Linked DNA regions of Homo sapiens. The protein of the gene in region 1 purifies or fractionates together with the protein of each later gene. This does not show direct contact. Each region holds a gene or a part of one and is shown on either strand. Other genes may lie near its edges.

Region 1 (8,879 bases):
ATAAATAAATAATTTATTTATTTTAATAATTTAAATTATTTATTTAAATTTTATTTGTTTATTTATTTGAGATGAAGTCTCACTCTGTGGCCCAAGCTGGAGTGCAGTGGCGTGATCTTTGCTCACTGCAACCTCCGCCTCCTGGATTTAATCAATACTTGTGCCTTAACCTCCTGAGTAGCTGGGACTACAGGCGTGTGCCACCACACCCCACTTATTTTTTGTATTTTAGTAGAAATGAGGTTTCACCATGTTGCCCAGGGTGGTCTCAAGCTCCTGAGCTCAGGTGATCCACCTGCCTCGGCCTCCCAAAGTGCTGGGATTACAGGTGTGAGCCATCGTGCCTGGCTCCAAATTATAGCATATTTCATACGTATATATACATTTTAGGATGGTTTGACTTAGGATTGATACATATTTATACAGTACAAGTGTTTTCAGATATAGTATCTCATTTGATCTTTTTACTAACCCTGTAAGGAAATTACAAGGGCAGATATTATCAATCCTATTTTTAAAATGAGGAAACAGATTTAGAAGGTAAACAGTTTAAGGGGACTCAACTTATAAGTTGCGGAGCTAAAAGCAGTTTCTACCTTATACAGATGATCCCCAACTTTACAATGGGTTTACCAGTACATAAGCCAACATAAACTGAGGAGCTCCTTACGACTTATGATGGGGTTACCCATCATAATGTTGAAAAATCCTACGTTGAACCATCCTAAATCGGGGATCCTCTGCTGTGTTGTCAGCAATAAATCCATTTTCAACTTACACTGGGTTTATCGGGACATAACCCAATCGTAAGTTGAAAAGCATCTGTACTCTTTTCAGTAGATCTTTCAGATTCACTTTTCTGGATTTGTTGAAAAAGAAATTATATAAAAATAGGCCAGGTGCGGTGGCTCACACCTATAACCCCGGCACTTTGGGAGGCTAAGGTGGGTGGATCACTTGAGGTCAGGAGTTCAAGACCAGCTTGGTCAACATGGTGAAACCCCGTCTCTACTAAAAATACAAAAATTAGCTGGGCATGGTAGCGCTTGCCTGTAATCCCAGTTACTCGGGAGGCTGAGGCAGAAGAATCGCTTGAATCCAGGAGGCGGAGCTTGCAGTGAGCCGAGATTGTGCCACTGCACTCCAGCCTGGGTGACAGAGCAAGACTCCATCTCAAAAAAAAAAAAAAAAAAAAAAGTATATATATATATACACACATACACACACACACACACACATAAAATACTTACACTTCTGGCAAACTTCTGGCTGACAGATAACTGGTTTTACAAAATCTTACTTCTACCTAATCGAAAGAATGGCCTAGCCTCAAATGAGACAGCAACGTGGTACTTCAGGCAGAATAAAGTACAATCAATTACACATATACTATGAACATTGATAACACAGAAGCCAGTCTGCAGACCACGAGGAGTGTTTTAATGTTTTAAGAGTAGTATACTAAACATGCTTAAGAACCACTAGTCTTGAACAATTTTCTGTATATATAATAAATTATACAGATAAATAGTATACAACTTACCTACAATTCACTGTTGATTTTCCACCTTCAAATTCAGAATTCTTCCCCCATCTTTTAGGTAATTCTAATACCATAAGTCCTTTTATTCCTATAAGTGCTACATGATGTTGTGTTGGGCTTAACAAGACTTGATAGATTTCAAACAGGGGTGGATTTATGCAAAGCAATCTCTGAAAATTAGAGCAAACCAGTCAACATAGTTAATTTTAATTTAAATATAGGTGGCAGTTACTTGAAATCACAGTAATACTTAGTTTACTACAATTATAGGATAATAAAACTCTGGATAAGTACTCACACTTGTACCATTAACTCACAAATTTTTTTTTTTTTTTTTGAGACAGAGTCTTGCTGTCACCCAGGCTGGAGTGCAGTGGCAGCCCACTGCAGACTTTACTATGGGGGTTCAAGTGTCCTCCCCACCTCAGCTTCCAGAGGAGCTGGGACTACAGGTGTGCACCATCACTCCCAGCTAATTAAAAAGGTTTTTTTTGTAGAGATGGGGGTTTCGTCATGTTGCCCAGGCTGGTCTGAACACCTGTTCCCGTGCTCACAAGATCCACCTGCCTCCACCTTGGCCTCCTAAAGTGCTGATTATAGGCTACAGCTACCACACCCAGCTTACTCATGCTTGCTTTTAACATCCAAAGTTACAACTCATGATAAGCTGCTTTCTTCCCCATCTCTAAGGTTTTGAGATTTTGGAGGAGTGAAGGTTATTGAGATAGTCACCAATATTTACTGAAAGCTTATAAATTCTGGGCACTCCAGCATTTCTGTATGCTGGACATACAAAAATAAGTAAATAGCCAGGCGTGGTGGCACATGCCTGTAGTCCCAGCTACTTCCAGGCGCTGAGGTGGGAGGATCACTCGACCCCTGACAGTAGAGGCTCCAATGAGCCGTGATCACACCACTGCACTCCAGCCTGGGCAACAGAGAAAGACCCCATTTCAAAAATAAAAAATAAAATACGTTTTTAAAAAATGACAAGGGCAGACCCAGCCCCTGCCTTGGAGCTTACAGTCTAGAAAAGAAGACAGAGGCAGAGTGCCATGGCTCACGGCTGAAATGCCAGCACTTTGGGAGGCCAAGACGGGTGGATCACCTGAGGCCAGGAGTTCCAGATCAGCCTGGTTAACATGGTGAAACCCCGTCTCCACTAAAAATACAAAAAGTAGCCGGGTACGGTGGAGTGGGCCTGTAATCCCAACTACTCAAGAGGCTGAGGCAGGAGAATCGCTTGAATCCATGAGGTGGAGGTTGCAGTTAGCTGAGATTGCACCACTGCACTCCAGCCTGGGCAACAGAGCGAGATCCTGCCTCAAAACAAAACAAAACAAAAACAGCCGGGCGCAGTGGCTCACGCCTGTAATCCCAACACTTTGGGAGGCCAAAGCCAGCAGATCACGAGGTCAGGAGTTCAAGACCAGCCTGGCCAACATGGCGAAACCCCGTCTCTACTAAAAACACAAAAATTAGTCGGGCGTGGTGGCAGATACCTGTAATCCCAGCTACTCGCGGGGGGGGCTGAGGCAGAAGAATCGCTTGAAACTGGAAGGTGGAGGTTGCGGTGAGCCGAGATGGCGCCATTGCACTCCAGCCTGGGCAACAAGAGCGAAACTCCATCTCAAAAAAAAAAAAAAGACACAAAATAATTATAAATAATTAAGTTATGATTATGTCAAATGCTACACAGCAGTATAGAATGTTATTAGAATACTGCGTGCTGCACATTTGGTAATTATTATTATTTTTTGAGACACAGTCTTGCTCTGTTGCCCAGGCTGTAGTGCAGGGGCGTGATCTCAGCTCACTGCAACCTCCTCCTCCCAGGTTCAAGCGATTCTCCTGCCTCAGGCACCTGAGTAGCTGGGATTACAAGGGCGCGCCACTACACCTGGCTAATTTTTGTATTTTTAGTAGAGACGGGGTTTCACCATGTTGGCCAGGCTGGTCTCGAATTCCTGACTTCAGGTGATCCACCTGCCTCTGCCTCCCAGTGTTGGGACTGCAGGCGTGAGCCACCGCGCCCGGCCTTCATAATTCTTTTTAACTGAAATTGGGTAAATAAGTAGACTGTAGACTCCTGCCCTATTTTCAAAACTGCAGAAGCATTGCTAGCGTCTTATTAAAATTAAATCACTTCTCGGTAACAAGAATTGGACCGGGCACACAACAGATGTCATACCTTAGAATGAGTACCAAGCTCTTTTTCATCTTTAAGAGAATCTGTGTATTACAAATAAACATTTCCATAAACCAATATTTGACCACGGCAAGTGTGTAATACTTTCTGGATCACACCCATTTTCACATGCTGTCGGCTAATCAAAAACAAAAATCCCCATTTTGGGTATGGCTTTATTTTCTAAAGCGGGCGTTACGGGGGTAAGAATTAACAGAGACTTCCTCCTCCATGTCAAGCATGAAGCGTGGTGCTTTGAAACCTGCAACCTGACTTGCTGTGCACAACGCAAGAGAAAGTTACGATCTAACCTATTATAAGCGTCACATCAGGAAACAGGTTTCTCTCGACGAAACTAAAAATAGCAACTCCGCCCACTCGTTCTCAACCCCTTTAGCCCGCTTTGTTTTTCTCCAGAGCACTCATCCGTCACTAGTATTTTTATTGAATATTCAATGACCCTTTCCTTCCTCCCAGGCCTCCAGGCCGTAAGCATCGAGAGAGCCTGAGTCCCCGCGACCGCGTATGGCAGCGTCGGAGTCAATCCGCTGGAACGCCTGCCACAAGATGAAAAACAGCCAAGAGGAGCAAGGAACAAAAAAGACTGGTTCCGATCCCGGTGAGGGTCACTTCCAAGATCGGCCTGGCATTACCTGGTACTGGGACAGGGCGGGCTCTTCGCCGCCGCCGCTGGGGCCCCGAAGGCGAACGACTAAGAAGGAGCTGTCTTCTCCGTCCCACAGGAAAAGCTCTCCGCCGAGGCCAAAGACCACGTTTCTCGTCAGCAACTGCGGCGGCGGCGACGAAGGCAACGACGAAGAAGCTGGTTTCTCAGCTTCGGTTGGACTCTGGTTTTTCAGTCCCTCCCGGAGCCGCAAGAACACGACGTGGTTAGGAAGCCAGGTCTGCCACAGCTCGCCGTCGCCCACCGGTCCCTCGGCGGCCGCCATCTTGGCCCAACTGCTCCCCTCACTCCAGTTGCTCAGCCCGCCGCTGAGCACAGCCAATCCGCGGCCGTCCACTCACTGTTTCGGCCAATCACCGAGCAGACGGCCCGGAAGCTCGAGAGGCTCGTGCCAGGTCGGGGGGCGAAGGCGAGGCCAGCCCACCAAGCAGGGGCGTCACCAAGGGAAAGCCAATCACCATTATTTCTGAAGCCCAAGGGGGCGGGACGAGAAGTCAACATAATGGTGGTGCTGCTGGAAATCTAGCACCTGGGGAGAGCCTGAGACTTGTGTATCTAATTGCCTATTGGACACCTCCATCTGGGTAAACCCAGGCATCCAGAACTTTCCCTCAAGACTTACCTCCCTCAGTGCAGGTCGGGCTGGCCTCACGCATTTCGCTTGGATGCCTAAATCTGTCTCCACGTGGGGCCGGTCGATAAAACAACACTTCCCAGAATACGCTGCGATCCATTCGCGGTCTGCACCCGGAAAGTACACCTCCCAGGGGTCTGTGCGCGCCTCCAGGGAACGGGTCTTGTGGCTTTGTCTCCCGCGAAGAGGAGATGGCGGAGTCGTTGAGGTCTCCGCGCCGCTCCCTGTACAAACTGGTGGGCTCGCCGCCTTGGAAAGAGGCTTTCCGGCAGGTGGGTATGGGGTTTGTGCAGTGGTCTACCCTAGATCGTCCCGGTGACCGCCGTCTTCCCTGCCTTCGCCTTAGCCCTGCTCCGTGGAGCAGGTGCCGCAGCGCGCCTGGTCTGGTCAAACCCAGGCCTGCTGACTGTAGAGTGTGGGATTAGCCCGGGTCGGTCAAGTCCTAGAAAGCCTTGTTTTTGGATTCGATTTTGTTTTGAATTTAAATTGTGGTCAGGACATCACCGTTTGCACCTCTGCAATAACACTACCTACTGTTGCTGCGGAGGTGGCCACCGAGAGAGGCACTTTGTCTACGTTCGTCTTGTGAGATAGAGATGATTTCTATTCTAGAGAGTAGTAAAATGAGGCTTAGAAGAGGGCTCCACCTCAGTTCTGGCCTCTTCTGAACACAGTGTGGTTATTAGTAAGTAATGTCCAAGAAAGTAACCCGACGCAAGAAAGATAGCAGATACAGCAGAGTTTCTCAGCCTTGACAATGGACATTTTGAGGGAGATATTTATATGTTGTGGAGGGTTGTTTAAGCCACGTCTCGGGCCTCCACCCACTAGATGCTAATAGTCCTATAACTAGAATTGTGACAACCAGAAATGTCTCCAAGCATTGCCAAATGTTCCTTGGGGGACAAAACCTCCCTGAGTTCAGAAACGCTGCTGTGCAGGAAGGCCGTTACCCAGCCATATCTAGAGTAGCAAGAATTTGGAAGGAATATAAATGTTCTGTAATAGGACATTGGATGCTGAGATATTATGCACACAACCATTAAGGAAACTGGCAAGCTAGAATAAAAAATATGGTTCTTTGTAAATACGTGTACAAAGCATTGTAATTTTATGTATCTCTACAGAGGAATATGCAAAAGTAACACTAGTTAGTATTATCATTGAAATTTTGTGTCTATAAACTTTCTTTAATGTTTTCTCAACTAATGTAAGAGTGTTTTTTAAAAATAGAAATGCTTTTTTTTTCCCCCCCAATCTTGCTCTTTTTTCCCAGAGATGCCTGGAGAGAATGAGAAACAGCCGGGACAGGCTCCTAAACAGGTACCGCCAGGCTGGAAGCAGTGGGCCAGGGAATTCTCAGAACAGCTTTCTAGTTCAAGAGGTGATGGAAGAAGAGTGGAATGCTTTGCAGTCAGTGGAGAATTGTCCAGAAGACTTGGCTCAGGTCAGGCTGGGCTATGTGTTTTCAGGGAGGGGGACTGCACCACCAAGAACGGCTCGTGTCCTCTTTTATTTGTTTACTTGAGTCCTCTAAACCCACCATTCCCCTAACCCCATTTAGAATTCAACAGCCTTTAACCCAGGCTTTTCTACACTTAATGTTAGACTTGTCTAGATGAAATGGTCTGAAATACCAGACCGTAGACCTGCTCATCACTGCAACATCATCATTTATGAAACTAAAAAGAAAGAAATTTCATTTCTTGCCTCCACCCTTGGAAATTATGATTCAGTAGGCATAGGCTAGGAATCTCTTTCTCTCCCTCTCTCTCGCTCTTTTTTTTTTTCTGTCTTGCTCTGTCGCCCAGGCTGGAGTGCAGTGGCAAGATCTCGGCTCACTGCAACCTCCACCTCCTGGGTTCAAACGATTCTCCTGTCTCAGCCTCCCAAGTAGCTGGGATTACAGATGTGTGCCACCATGCCCGGCTAATTTTGTTTCTGTTTTAGCAGGGATGGGGTTTCACCATGTTGGCCAGGCTGGTCTTGAACGCCTGACCTCTAGTGATCTGCCCACGTCAGGAATCTCTTTCTAAAAAGGTCTCCAGAAACTTTCCGATTCTAATCTCAGCCAACGTTGGCAGCCATGTGTGGAAGGGAAAACCATTTATAGTGTATCAGGAAGAACACTGGATTCGAAGTCAGGAGTTCCAGAATTCAAATCCTGGTTTGGCTATTGACTGTTAACTTCAGTTTGCCTCTTTGAGGTTTAGTTTTCACATTTATAAAATGAGAAGATAATGTTTTCAGCATTGTAAGGACTGTGTAAGAAAATGTGGGCAACTGTTTGAAACCATCAACACCCTGTGTAATAATGATGCATTATTCAGTGGCTTTTGTGTGTCCTGCAGTACACCAATGTTTGCCTTATATCACCACAACTAGTACTCACAGTAACCCTCTTAGATAGATTTTATTCCCACTTTACAGAGGCCAAAACTGAGATTTGCAGAGATTAGGAACTTTTCATGTGGTTACGTAGCCTTGGAAGAATATGTACCTAACTGCTACCCTATATCGTCTCTCCAAAATTGGGTACCATTATTTTGTCACTGGATAGTTGGATCATTTGTTGATGGCTTGTCAGCATGACAGCATTACCCCACTGTCAGCATATTCTGCAGGAGGACTGGACTGATTTTGTCCAATAAATCTGGGTTCTTCAAGCCAGCCTCCAAGTATGAATCACTGTGGGGCTTGGTTGGTGATTAATACTTCAAACTTCTGATGCCGCTCCTTTCTCTTCCAGCTGGAGGAGCTGATAGACATGGCTGTGCTGGAGGAAATTCAACAGGAGCTGATCAACCAAGGTAACCCCTAGTGGTAGTCCTTCCTTACCTGTATTTAGCTACTGGAATACTGTGACCTTTCCTCCAATCAGGATTAGTTTATAAGTCCCCTTTGTCTACCTCCATCAGTCAAGTGTCCAAAAGACTCCTTTTGTACTCTGACATCTTGGCTGTCTAGCTTCTCAATAATAAGGGTCTCCAGGGTGCTAGACCTTGTGCTAAGAACTTCTCATTTAATGATGCTGTTTTCTCCATGTGACTGCCCTGTAAGATAGTAGTATTAGAACAGAAGGTGGTTGGTGTTCTCGTGCAGGTCATACAGCTAGTAAGTGGAGGAGATGGGAAGCAAAATCAGTTGTATGAATCCAGTTCCCATGTTTCTTCTACCATCCTGCCTCTCTATTAATGGGTTAATAGTTCACTGAGGGTGGTGGCTTATGCCTGTAATCCCAGCATTTTGAGAGGCTGAGGCAGGAGTATTGCTTGAGGCCAGTTCAAGACCAGCATGGGCAACATAACAAGATCCTGTCTCTACAGAAGTAAAAAAAAAAAAAAAAAAATTATCTGGGTGTGGTAGCAAATACTTGTAGCCTCCCTCAGCCAGAAGGCTTAGGCAGGAGGATCACTTGAACCCAAGAGTTTAAGGTTACAGTGAGCTATAATTTTACCACCTCACTCCAGCCTGGCTGACAGAGGGAGACCCTGTCACTTTAAAAAATAAAATAAAAAAAAGTAAACCTGCCATTTTACAGGATACAGTGATAGTGCATGGTCTGATCCCTTGCCCTATTCATTTTAAGTGCCACATTCTCTATTAACTCCCCAGGGCCTGTGAGCATCCACTCCTTGAGGGAGGTGTCCATAGCATGGTGTAGAGAGCATAATTTTGTACCTTATATAGTTAAGTCATTTATTCCATGTAGCCCTGATTTGATTAGGCCTTGTTTGGTTTTTGTTTTTGTTTTTTTTGAGACAGGGTCTCTGCCCAGGCTGGAATGCAGTGGCGTGATCACGGCCCACTGCAGCCTTGACCTCCTGGG
Region 2 (5,460 bases), on another chromosome or scaffold:
TGCTGCCTTTCTGCAAAATGAATTGTAAAGTTAAAAGAGCCTTCTTCTAAGTGGTTTTCTCAGTTTTTAGAGACTTCTTCACTATCACTGAGAACAATTCCTACTTCCTTACAGTTCTTTTTTTTTTTTTTTTTTTTTTTTGAGATGGAGTCTTGCTCTGTCGCCTAGGTTGGAGGGCAGTGGCGTGATCTCGGCTCACTGCAACCTGTGCCTCCCAGGTTCATGTCATTCTCCTGCCTCAGCCTCCCAAGTAGCTGGACTACAGGCACCCGCCACCACGCCCGGCTAATGTTTTGTATTTTTAGTAGAGACGGGGTTTCACCGTGTTAGCCAGGATGGTCTCGATTTCCTGACCTTGTGATCCGCCCACCTTGGCCTCCCAAAGTGCTGGGATTACAGGCATGAGCCACCTCGCCCGGCCTTCCCTACAGTTCTTAAAACTTAATGTAGTTATTCTTGTTTCTGTTGCAGAGACTATCCTCTGGTTAATACAGACTCAAGCTTCTTTGGTGCTAGAACTAAGAATGTTCATGGGTGTAATGGGGCACTCTGCCTCAGTGTGGTAACCTCTGAACTGTCAATGGACATTTGAGGTGTTTCAAATAGTGTGCAGGCATGCCCTCTTGATGCTGGTGCTGTTGCACCTCCACTCTTTTGTGGTCGGTTTTCTTTATTTTATCACAAACATATACTTAAAATTACATAAAAGAAAAAAGTTAGGCATGTTCTTTTTCATGCACATTGGAGACTTTTACTCAAGGTCTTCACAGGTATCTTCAACATCCGGGTCCTTGTTATCACTAGCGCCACTCTTTAGGAGTCTTTAGGAGAGAATTTTTTATCTGACCAGATAATTTAAAAGGTCAGAAAAATGTGGTATTTTTGTTGTTTGTTCCATGACATTACTAACCAGATCTTCACAGAAAAAGAAACAAAACCTCAGGTTGCCATAAAGCTTATCTGCTTTGGTTGTATTTGTCCATAGGGATAATGTTAATAAGTTCTAGCTGTTCTTAGATGGTGGACTGCCTTTTATTTAATGTTTGTATCTAACAAAACAAAAACAAAAACCAAAAAAAAAACCACTTAGACTGGGTGCAGTGTCTCATGCCTGGAATCCCAGCACTTTGGGAGGCTAAGGTGGGAGGATTGCTTGAGCTCAGGAGTTCAAGACTAGCCTGGGCAAGATGATGAGACCCCGCCTCTACAAAAAAAAAAAAAAAAAAAATTAGGCTGGCATGGTGACGTGTGCCTGTGGTCCCAGCTACTTGGGAGGCTGAGATCGGAGGATCGCTTGAGCCCAGGAATTTGAGGCTCCAATGAGCTATCATCACACCTCTGTACTCCAGCCTGGGTGACAGAGCGAGACCCTGTCTCTAAAAAGCAATAATAATTAATAAACTTAGAAACTACACATTTTCTGAAATAAATTAAAAAACTGATTTGTTATTGAACCCAAGTATTTATTCACTAGCGTTTCTACTCTGCACGTTAGCTGTGACCATTTGAGGATATCCAGAAACCAAAAGCTGCACAGTCTCATTTGTGTGTTGTTAGGTCTCCTCCTACAGTATCCTTGCTAGAGATATTTCCTTTTACTTACGGGCTTTCTGTGGCTAATGTTTGTAATCCAGGGTAGGGACAGATCCTTCATTTTGCAACTTGCAAGTATCCTATTTATTAGCATTTTGTTAAGTGTAAATTCCCGTGCCATTTAGCCAAGTACATTAGAATTTTGAGCTGCAGTCATTTCAGGATGTGTTCAGCCTCTGCATCCTGAATCTGTTAGGGGTTTGGATTCCTCACTGGTTGAGCAGCAGTATTACTGTTGGTGCTTATGAAACTGGTGTATCAGCTACTGGTCTGAGAAAATTATTCCAAGTTAGCATTATTCCAAGTTGCTCTTTTGAGTATGGTAGCCACACTTACTAGGGAATGAGAGGGAAGTTTTCACTTTATACCCCTCTTTCTTACTTTCTCTTTATCTCTTTCCCTTTTTGCTCGAATTCATTCACGTGCTCTATTTTTCTTTCTCTTTCCTTCACTTTCCTTGTCTCACTGTCCTTCTTTCTTAACAATAAGCATGTGTTACCTCAGTAAAAAATAAACATGCTGGGTGTCATGGCTCACACCTGTAATCCCAGCATTCTGGGAGGAAGCGGGAGGATCACTTGAGCTCAGAAGTTTGAGACCAGCATGGATAATATAGTGAGACCTCGTATCTACACAAAATTTAAAAATTAGCCAGGCGTAGGCTGGGCACGGTGGCTCACGCCTGTAATCCCAGCACTTTGGGAGGCCGAGGCAGGCGGATCATGAGGTCAGGAGATCGAGACCATCCTGGCTAACACGGTGAAACCCCGTCTCTACTAAAAATACAAAAAAAAATTAGCCGGGCTTGGTGGCGGGCGCCTGTAGTCCCAGCTACTCGGGAGGCTGAGGCAGGAGAATGGTGTTAACCCGGGAGGCAGAGCTTGCAGTGAGCCGAGATCGTGCCACTGCACTCCAGCCTGGGTGACAGAGCGACACTCCATCTCAAAAAAAAAAAAAAAAAAAAATAGAAAATGGAGATGTTATCATTAACATAATTCTTAACAGTATCATTTGACTTGTTTGTGAATGCTATGACCTCGGATTGCGATTCTGTTACTTAGTTCTCTTTCATAATCTTTGCTTTTCAAAAACAGGTTGTTAAGAGAGAGGACATTCAGCAGTTCTTTGAAGAGTTTCAGTCAAAAAAGAGAAGAAGAGTGGATGGGATGCAGTATTACTGCAGCTAGAGTGGAGTATGAAGCTTTCTCATTCAAGCCAATGAAAATGCGCTTCCCATTCTTGGAATAAAAGAGGTGTGGTTCACATTTGGCCCCCTTTCCGTCCTCCTCTGTTTGGAGAGGCCTCGCGCTCCCTTCATTCTCTTTAGCTGCAGTAGCCACCGTGTGGATGCTGACTTCACAGCCAGCGTCCTCTGTGACTCAGCTGATGCAGCTCATTCCACAGACTTCTCCAGTGTACTCCTACTCCAGTGCACCCAGGGTTATTTGCATAGTTTTTAAGTTTGATTTTGTTTTGAGAAAGCAAATTGGTGTCTTGTTTAATGATCTGTTATTTCACTCCCAGATGTGTGTGTTTTGCCACAGAGCTGTTGCCTTCCAGAACCTCCTCCGCAGGCATCACGGAAGGCTCTCTTCCCGTCACCTAGAACCTCTACAGGTCCCCTCGCCCCTATGATCGTGGTGCCTTGGGTCAAAGCTTCCTCAAGCCTGGTCTGCTCCTTCTTTCACGTCCCTGTTTTCTGAGGTTTGGTCATAGCTTAGAAAGGATCTTGGGGCTTGTTTTCTCTAGGCCCAACCTCCAGAGTAGCCAGGACTGATGGTTTTCTGGTCTGGATGTCTGTCACAGGCGGAGAGATTAACAGATGACAGGGTTGAGGAAGCAAGCCTTTGTTATGAATTTTACTAATACAGTTCAAGTGAAATTTTCGTTCATGATTCTATTGGCACTAGAATTAGAATTTCAGTACTGTAGTGCTCACAGGGCTTCCTGGAGAACATTTGCCCGTATACTAGTCCCTTCTCTGCTGCCTAGAAAACAGACCGGGTCTCACCCCTGTGAAATCTTGGTGGTTTACGAAGTCCTCTGGATTTCTTGATATTATCAGGGATATTCATAAGCATATATCAAAAATGGACCTATTTTGATATTCTGTTATGAAAATGTTATTAGAACCCCAATAAATTATTATTTTTCCCCCTTGAATCTGCTAAAGAAAACAGATCCTGACTTAGCTTACTTGAAATAAGCAGGGCAGGGAGCCCTGTTTTGGAAGAGACAGACTGTGGAAGAGATTACAAACAAGGCCCGAGGCTGCACGAATGATGAGTTTTGTGTATATAATGTTAATGTCCACCGCCACTTCCCTAACGACTATGAGATCTTTTTTTTGAAGATCCTCATGGAAGGTTGTACAGAGCCCCACATTTGAGGGGAAGTCCTTTCAGTTGATATGAGATCTCTTTAACACCCCTCAGTCTATGTAGGAAATGCCTTGTGATACATAGAGAACCCTCAGCTTCTCTCTGCCTCTGGAGGACCAAGGTCTTTCCTGACAGTCGGAGACACACCTTGATGTATGTTAATAAAAGCATTTCAGGCTGTGGGGCCACCATGTATATTAATACTCCTTATGTGTCCAGCATCTGTGTATTCATTCGAGTGCCCAATCCCTGGATGAGATGAACTAGGCCTTATAAAAAGTCAAAGCCTCAAAGAAATGGCACAACCATGTTCTTCGGCACTCAGGCTCCTAATTGCAGATCCTCACGAAGGGTGGTATGTGGAGCTGGAAGGTCTTGTGGCCACAGGACATGCTGGTGAGCCCTGAGCTGGCCTTGTGCAGAGGGCTCCGTTCAAAGGCTCGGGGTGTCTTTGAGGTTGTTTATCAAGCTGGGGAACTCTTCCAAGTCTGACAATGTTTCGAACCCTTTTTGCAAGGTTGCACTATTAGTATACCATCATGTCCGGAAAACTTTTAATCTTCTCAAATATCTGATGTAACTACCAGAAAGTCCCTTACTTCCTATGACCAATCAGGACCAAGTCTTGGAGGTGATGTGTTACATTACGTGCAGCACAATAGTACCGATCAGTTAACTCAGCGCTGAAGGGCTTGTTTTATGAAAGGTACTATTCCTTCTTTCACATTAACTGGAAACCTCTTTTTTTACCTGTTGTTCACAACTAGTTTTCTTATTGACTGTATTGGACTGTCTCTTCTTGTAGAGACTGATTTTGGCCAACATATTAATGCATGTTTTATGCAAAACACAAATATGATATTAGTTGCTTTTAAGGAGTTCTGGCATTGTATGTGCATTTTTGTAGAAATTGTTACTGGACTTATAATTACATACTTAACTCTGATCAGGTTTCTGTAAAATTTAAATAAAACCAATACAAAATAGTTGCTTTTCAGATTGTTTTTAGTATATTTAAGTCTACACAGCCTCCCTCTGCAGGTTTTAAGAAAATGCAGGCAGGGCGCGGTGGCTCACGCCTGTAATCCCAGCACTTTGAGAGGCCGAGGCAGGCAGATCACGAGGTCAGGAGATCGAGACCATCCTGGCTAACATGGTGAAACCCCATCTCTAATAAAAATACAAAGAATTAGCTGGGTGTGGTGGCGGGCGACTGTAGTCCCAGCTACTCGGGAGGCTGAGGCAGGAGAATGGCGTGAACCCGGGAGGCAGAGCTTGCAGTGAGCCGAGATCACGCCACTGCCCTCCAGCCTGGGCGACAGAGCGAGACTGTCTCAAAAAAAAAAAAAAAAGAAAAAATGCATAGAGCCGGGCATGGAGGTTCACGCCTGTAGTCCCAGCTACTTGGGAGGCTGATGCAGGAGGATTGCTTGAGCCCAGGAGTTGGAGGCTATAGAGTGCCGTGGTTGCACCTGTGAATAGCCAG

The links. The genes of interacting proteins can lie anywhere in the genome.
Region 2: the proteins of RPAIN (region 1) and UBR7 purify together in Homo sapiens (affinity purification with mass spectrometry; 2 studies listed by BioGRID and IntAct, with this or other methods). This does not show direct contact.

The regions. Positions count from the first base shown.
Region 1 is NC_000017.11:5,414,970-5,423,848, forward strand, and holds the start of RPAIN (RPA-interacting protein), read left to right. Parts: upstream 1-5,212; 5' UTR 5,213-5,241; coding exon 5,242-5,322; intron 5,323-6,326; coding exon 6,327-6,497; intron 6,498-7,799; coding exon 7,800-7,860; intron 7,861-8,879. Other genes in the region: nuclear pore complex protein Nup88, read right to left, coding at 1,544-1,713, 4,385-4,681. UniProt on the Homo sapiens protein: Mediates the import of RPA complex into the nucleus, possibly via some interaction with importin beta.
Region 2 is NC_000014.9:93,224,256-93,229,715, forward strand, and holds the end of UBR7 (putative E3 ubiquitin-protein ligase UBR7), read left to right. Parts: intron 1-2,687; coding exon 2,688-2,780; 3' UTR 2,781-4,960; downstream 4,961-5,460. UniProt on the Homo sapiens protein: E3 ubiquitin-protein ligase which is a component of the N-end rule pathway. Recognizes and binds to proteins bearing specific N-terminal residues that are destabilizing according to the N-end rule, leading to their ubiquitination and subsequent degradation.